Linked DNA regions of Homo sapiens. The protein of the gene in region 1 interacts with the protein of each later gene in a pairwise test. Each region holds a gene or a part of one and is shown in the gene's direction. Other genes may lie near its edges.

Region 1 (3,652 bases):
TGTAGTAATGGGTCTAAATGATTGCTGAATATTTTTCCTTCTGAATTTGTGTCTTCAAAAAGTCAATTATTTGGCTGATCTTGAATAGTGAACTTAAAATACTTTGATGGAAAAAGGAATTATTTCATTCATGATACTGGATTATTCTGTTTCATAACTTTCCTTGATCTAGGTGATCTTGCTGTAAGAAACTCTGTATTTAGGCTGGACGTGGTGGCTCACACCTATAATCCTAGCATTTTGGGAGGCTGAGGCGGGAGGATCACTTGAGCTCAGGAGTTCAAGACCAGCCTAGACAACATAGTGAGACCTCATCTCTATGATAAAACAGATTTTTTTAAAGTAAAAAAAAAACCTCTCTATTTGAAAATTTGATCATAAAACACATTAAGCAGTGTTTATAATGTGAAATAATTTACTTGATTTACTATAAATATACTGTATGTGTAACTGGCAAGTTTGGTATACAGAGTTGGCTTTATACATAAATATACTGTATGTGCAACTAGCAAGTTTGGTATACAGAATTGGTATACACATATACTGTATGTGTAACTGGCAAGTTTTGTATACAGAGTGTGTGTACGTATATACGCACATATACATACATATTTAAATTTGGAATCAGCAAAATTTTTTCTTTTCTAGGAACTAAGCGTCTTGTAGAAGGAACTATTAATCCAGGAGAAACCTGTTTAATCATTGAAGATGTTGTCACCAGTGGATCTAGTGTTTTGGAAACTGTTGAGGTTCTTCAGAAGGAGGGCTTGAAGGTCACTGATGCCATAGTGCTGTTGGACAGAGAGCAGGGAGGCAAGGACAAGTTGCAGGCGCACGGGATCCGCCTCCACTCAGTGTGTACATTGTCCAAAATGCTGGAGATTCTCGAGCAGCAGAAAAAAGTTGATGCTGAGACAGTTGGGAGAGTGAAGAGGTTTATTCAGGAGAATGTCTTTGTGGCAGCGAATCATAATGGTTCTCCCCTTTCTATAAAGGAAGCACCCAAAGAACTCAGCTTCGGTGCACGTGCAGAGCTGCCCAGGATCCACCCAGTTGCATCGAAGCTTCTCAGGCTTATGCAAAAGAAGGAGACCAATCTGTGTCTATCTGCTGATGTTTCACTGGCCAGAGAGCTGTTGCAGCTAGCAGATGCTTTAGGACCTAGTATCTGCATGCTGAAGACTCATGTAGATATTTTGAATGATTTTACTCTGGATGTGATGAAGGAGTTGATAACTCTGGCAAAATGCCATGAGTTCTTGATATTTGAAGACCGGAAGTTTGCAGATATAGGAAACACAGTGAAAAAGCAGTATGAAGGTAAGTGTATTATTCAGGAATCTGCAAGAATCAGAAATCCAGCTTAAACTGAAGAAGAAAAAGGAAATGCTCATGTCATTGAAAGTCCATTCATAGAGCAGGCTGTCAAGCGTGGTTGGATCCAGGAGCTCAAGTGATATCTTCATGACTTGCTTTCTCTCCATCTCTCAGCTCTGCTTTCTTCTCTGTTGACTTCTTTCTCAGGTAGGCATACTCTGCATGCTCACCCCAAACCAATCACTCTAGCTTGGGATGTAGAATACCTTCATTAACTAGCCTGGGCAATTTGCTCTGCAACTGTGAGGTTGTTAACTCTGTATGACCTTCTTGAAATAAGAACCAGTCAGGGATAATTTCCTTAAAGAAAATGGATGTGCTAGTACCAGAAGAAGGGTATGTGCCTGGGCAAGCAAATTTGACAGATGTCCTTGGCAGAATATGATGTTTTGAATGAAAATTCCACATAAAGGAAACAATGAAAAAGAAATATAAAATGGTAAGATTTATTTGTAGCAGAAAAAGTTCTATTGATAAACATTATTTAAAGATTTTTCTTTTATCAAATAGGGACTCAAAGTAGTGCATGTGTTGGTTGAGAAAAATGCTTAGTTCTACTGCCTATTCTATGCAAATTTCTGTCTATGTTTTTACAACTGTGTGATCAGACTATATTTAATGCATTTTTCACTTAACCTGGTAACAGATATTTGGTTGTGTCATATAACATTTTTTGTAGGCATCTTTGAGGTAACTTTTCTTTAATGTATGCATGTTCATAAGCTATTTCTTTAAAATAGATTTGTCTTTAAGTGACTTCTTCATGTGCTTAAGATGTCCTGCCCTCATCACATTGCCTAGCTTACTTTAGCTGATTGACTGACATAAGAGTTTTATACAAACTTTCTTCAGCTCTGCATAGAGTTTTTTCGAAAATCAGGCTTGTTACTGTCCGCTTTTAAAAGGAATATAGTTGCCTATTGAAATTAGATAGCTAAGGAGATCTAAGGAACACGTAGAAATATTGAGCGATAGTAAAGCTGCTGAGAGACCCCTGCAGAGTGAAAACTTGTCATCTTCAAGAAGAATTTTATTTTTATTATTATTTTTTTTGAGATGGGGTCTTGCTCTGTCGCCCAGGCTGGAGTGCAGTGGTGCAATCTTGACTCACTGCAACCTCCACCTCCTGGGCTCAAGTGATCCTCCCACCTCAGCCTCCCAAGTAGCTGGGACCACAGGCATGCGCCACCACACCTAGCTAATTTTTTTGTATTTTTGGTAGAGATGGAGTTTTGCCATGTTGCCCAGGCTGGTCTCGAACTCCTAAACTCAAGCAATCTGCCCACCTCAGCCTCCCAAAGTACTGGGATTACAAGCATGAGCCACCATGCCCAGCTTCAAGAGGAATTTTTAAATGTTATCCTTGACATCAATAAATGTTTATCTTCACTGGAGTCCCTTTCTAATAGCATGAGCTTTATTTGTGGTCATGAGCTTCAGCCTTCAAGGAAAAAGAGTCCTGTTAGTGTTCCAGATAAGCCAAGTGCAGACCTTGAAAGTTTTTTCTCATTGTGATCTCTCACCCAGCTACTTACCTGAATAACAGATACAGTTTTCACAGATGGAACCATGGGTCTGCTGATAATCACTAAAGTTCCTGAAGAGTTTTGATTCTCTCATTAACATGTTACTGGGAGATTATTTCATATTGTAGTTGGTTGGTTGGACAAGACGTTAGAGGTTTTGTTTGAAAATCAGCAAATATCTTTTTTCCCCCTTCTTCTTAGGAGGTATCTTTAAAATAGCTTCCTGGGCAGATCTAGTAAATGCTCACGTGGTGCCAGGCTCAGGAGTTGTGAAAGGCCTGCAAGAAGTGGGCCTGCCTTTGCATCGGGGGTGCCTCCTTATTGCGGAAATGAGCTCCACCGGCTCCCTGGCCACTGGGGACTACACTAGAGCAGCGGTAAGTGGTGGGGGGACTGGGTGAGAGGGGGCAGGGGCTGCTATGCTGCATGCTGCAAGAAGATATCTCCTAATCTGGCGTTTCTGGAACCTCTGCCAAAAAAAAAATCCAGCTCTTGTTAGTGTGACAGTATATTAATACTAGTTGGATAGAATTCCTTGATAGTTAATAGCATTTTATATCATGTAGTGGACACTTCAGGAATTTGAATTATACTCCAAGAGAAACTTTGAGACCCAGATAGTTAGTCAAACAAACACTTACTAAATCTACCAGGACTTTAAGATAATGTCTTTTTCATCTTACCATGAATTGAGAGAAGATGAGAAGAGCTTCCCAGACATGCAGTTTCTCAGAATCTCCCAAGTCCTA
Region 2 (3,652 bases), on another chromosome or scaffold:
GTGCCTCCAGCCTGGGTGACAGAGCAAGACTCTGTCTCAAAAATAATAATAATAATAATAATAATAAAATTGCTGTTACTCGAGCAGTCTCTCTGGAACAATTCAACCTTTCCTATATTTTGGAATTCAGGTGACCAAATCAGAACCAAACAGAACAATCCCAAATCTGGAGAAACATGGTGATTAAGGGGTATTTTTAGTTGCACGAAAGAGATCAAGAGAGCTTTAAAAAAAAAAAAAAAGAGTGAGTTAATGGTAGGGAGAGGTTGGTCAAATAAAGGGCACATGTCCTTGCTTTACCTGAGGGACTGGCATTATGGAGACTTGCTCCCTTAGTTTTGGCCATCCTCTCTTGGGTAGGAAAAAGGCCTTATTGAGAGTTAAGTATTTAGGGAAATAAATTTGATGATCCGTTATTTTCTTCAACTTTTTTCTCCCTGACAGCAAGGAAGATTTAAGGAAGAAAACTTTTCGATTTCCTTTGAAAAATAGAACACAAAACTGGCTTGTAAATGTTTTTAGAATGATGAATAAGTCATTAATTAATTCAGTGACGTATGTTTTCTAGGATCCCTCTGGCTGTTGTGCTGAGAACAGAAGGGGTCAAGGGAGTGGGGGAGTAAAAATGGAAGCAGGGTGACGCATGCAGGAGTCCAGACAAAAGACGGGTGATTTTGCTCAGGTTGGTAGCAACAGAGGTAATGAGAAGTAGTTGGATTTTGGATATATTTTGAAGGAAGGACCTAAAAGATTTGCTGATGGCTTAGAAGTTAGGTATGAGTTAAGTCAAAAATGATACCACAGTTTTTGGCCTGAACAACTGGAAGGACAGAATTACCATTAACTGATATGGGGAAGACCGTGGAAAGAACAGTTTTCGGGCATTAGGAAAAATAATAACACATTTGTATGCTTTTGAGAATGGTTCAGTGGAGAGTAGAAATACTGACGAGGGAGAGAATTATTGGAGTCATAGCCTTGGGTAAGTGAGAGGGGGTAGTTTCTAGTACATACTTAGAGAGTTTGGCCAAGAGCATATAGCATAGCCCTGTTAATAGGAACACAGGTAGAGGATATGAGCACTGGTGCTGGTTAAGTGGGTGGATGTTCAAGTTCTCCTGATTGCCTGCTTTTTTCAGTAAAGTAGGAATCCAGGTCATCAGCTGACAGAGAAGATGGGGAATGGGGATGTTGGAGATTTGAGGAAAATATAAAAGTGAACAGACTAGAAAAATAAAGTAATATAAGGACCTTTTGGAGATTAATGATCATGAATACTTAAAGTCTCAAGTGTTTGGGAGTGCAGGTTGGAATCTTACAAAACTCTGCCATGAGACCTTTGTGTGACCCAGCAGACTACTTCTTGTGCTTGTCATCTGCTTCATATTCTGTCAGGTGAAAACAGTTGGTCTATCTGGAAGTATTTGCATCAAATTTAGAAAAAATACATGGAAAATAATCAACTTTGTCTCAGTCTATGAAAATCTTTAGATTTCTGCAGTCCATACAAATGATAAACAATCAAGAGAAGGAGCTATTGCTTAAGTCAAAAATGGAAATTAATGAATAGTCTTTCCATGCAGTTGTACACAGTGGATTTGGTTTGTATCCGCTTACAAATTTTAGAGGACAATGGCCGCAACACATCATGGTGTTTTGATGTTACTCTGATTTTGTTTCTTCCATTATTGAGTTTTTGCTTTATTTGTAAAAACTGGCACCAGTAGAAATGCTAATTTTTAAAATGCTTAGCCATTTATAAAACTATAACAAAATTTAAAATATTAATACATTTGTAACATTGGTGTCTGAATCAACTTAACCTCTAATAAAGAACTGTCTATATAACTTGCCTTGTTCAGAAATAACTATTTTAATTTAAAGGTGAATTTAGAATTTCAAAATACTTTAGAATTTCTCAGGAAACTAGTTACTTCCAAGTTTTCAGTTTTTTGCTGTGGATAAAGAATTATTTTAATTTCATCAAAGAATGTTTCCCATTTTTTAATCTGGTAATTTATTGGGTGCCCACTGTGTGCTAAATATCTTCTAGGTGAGCAAGACTAAGTCCTTTCTTCATAGAAACCGACTAATGTTAATGTTAATTAGGTCAATAAATGCTAGAAAGAGAGGGGGTGCTATTTTAGATTGGGTAAGCAGGGAAAGCCTCTCTGAAGAAATGACATTAGGAGTTTGCCTTGAAAAAAACTAAAGAACCATACACATATGCCCCTTTTGCCATTTACACTGGGGAGCCAAACTTTTTACCAGCATTTATTTCATGGTGTTATTATCCAGTTTTTCATGTACAGTAGATGTTGGCTCTTTATTACTTGATTTTTATCAACTTTTCTTCTTCAGACAGTTATAACCACTAGCCCTGTTTGGCACAGCAGCCTCCTACTTCCTTGTACCTCCATTCTCATTTTTGCCAGTTGTCCTTCTCTGTACTATCTCTTCCTCTTTACTCTCCTATGGTGGGCATGTTTTTAGTTTTTCTGACTTCATTTGTGTCTGATCATTCTCCCATTCAAAGGTAATTATCTCTTATGAGAAAATGTCTATATATGTACACGCATGCATACACATATATATGTATCACTGTCATTACACACATCATCAGCATCAGGAATGTTTTTATAGATTTGAAATCAGAGTCTATGGATTTAGATAAAATACAAAAGGAAGGAAAAATAGAAGTACTGCTGTTGTATGTACATTGAGGGAAGTATCTTTCTGATTAAAAAAAAAAGGCCGGGCGCGATGGCTCACGCTTGTAATCCCAGCACTTTGGGAGACTGAGGCAGGCGGATCACCTGTCAGGAGTTCAAGACCAGCCTGACCAACACGGAGAAACTCCATCTCTACTAAAAATACAAGATTAGCCAGGCATGGTGGCGCATGCCTGTAATCCCAGCTACTTGGGAGGCTGAGGCAGAAGAATCGCTTGAACCCAGGAGGCAGAGGTTGCAGTGAGCTGAGATCATGCCATTGCACTCCAGCCTGGGCAACAAGAGCAAAACTCAGTCTCAGAAAAAAACAAACAAACAAAATAAGACAATTGAGACACATGTCTTTAAAGCCATAGGCCCATATCGGTTGTCTGAGGGTGGTAATCTTTGCTTCTCATGGAACAGGGTGAGGTGCCAGAAATCTCTAGACTGGCAGATGGGAGGGAGGGAGAATGTACAAGGTGTCTAAAAAGTTGGAAACATAGGATAAACATTATGTTTTATTTTCAAATGACACACTCAATATGTTTTTCATTAACCACTAGACACTTTTTTAGATGATATACTTCTAAATTTAAAACAGTCCAGTTGTTAACCTGAACAATATATATTGTAAATACACTATTATTCCTGTTTCCAGACTTTTTGAACATTCTCTGGTGTATTTATTGTACTTTTTTCAGATTAACAACTTGACCTATTTCTTAGTGTGTATCTCTAGATATGTTTCTAAACATTTTGAACAGTTGATTGTCAAAACCCCTGACGAAAGAGAGTTTCATGATGAAGCTTGAGGAACTAGAATGGGCTTCCCAAGAATTAAATGCTGATCCAGCCTCCTTTTCTGTGAAGAGATTTATAGTGTGTTAGGGCAAAGAAAACTATAGATAAATGTATAGTTTCTCATGATACTCCTGTGA

Evidence for each region. The genes of interacting proteins can lie anywhere in the genome.
Region 2: the proteins of UMPS (region 1) and PLA2G12A interact in a two-hybrid assay, tested with the Homo sapiens proteins (one large-scale study listed by BioGRID and IntAct).

What each region holds. Positions count from the first base shown.
Region 1 is NC_000003.12:124,736,920-124,740,571, forward strand, and holds part of UMPS (uridine 5'-monophosphate synthase), read left to right. Parts: intron 1-648; coding exon 649-1,320; exon of another isoform or gene 1,321-1,524; intron 1,525-3,104; coding exon 3,105-3,280; intron 3,281-3,652. UniProt on the Homo sapiens protein: Bifunctional enzyme catalyzing the last two steps of de novo pyrimidine biosynthesis, orotate phosphoribosyltransferase (OPRT), which converts orotate to orotidine-5'-monophosphate (OMP), and orotidine-5'-monophosphate decarboxylase (ODC), the terminal enzymatic reaction that decarboxylates OMP to uridine monophosphate (UMP).
Region 2 is NC_000004.12:109,723,522-109,727,173, reverse strand, and holds part of PLA2G12A (group XIIA secretory phospholipase A2 precursor), read left to right. Parts: intron 1-3,652. UniProt on the Homo sapiens protein: PA2 catalyzes the calcium-dependent hydrolysis of the 2-acyl groups in 3-sn-phosphoglycerides. Does not exhibit detectable activity toward sn-2-arachidonoyl- or linoleoyl-phosphatidylcholine or -phosphatidylethanolamine.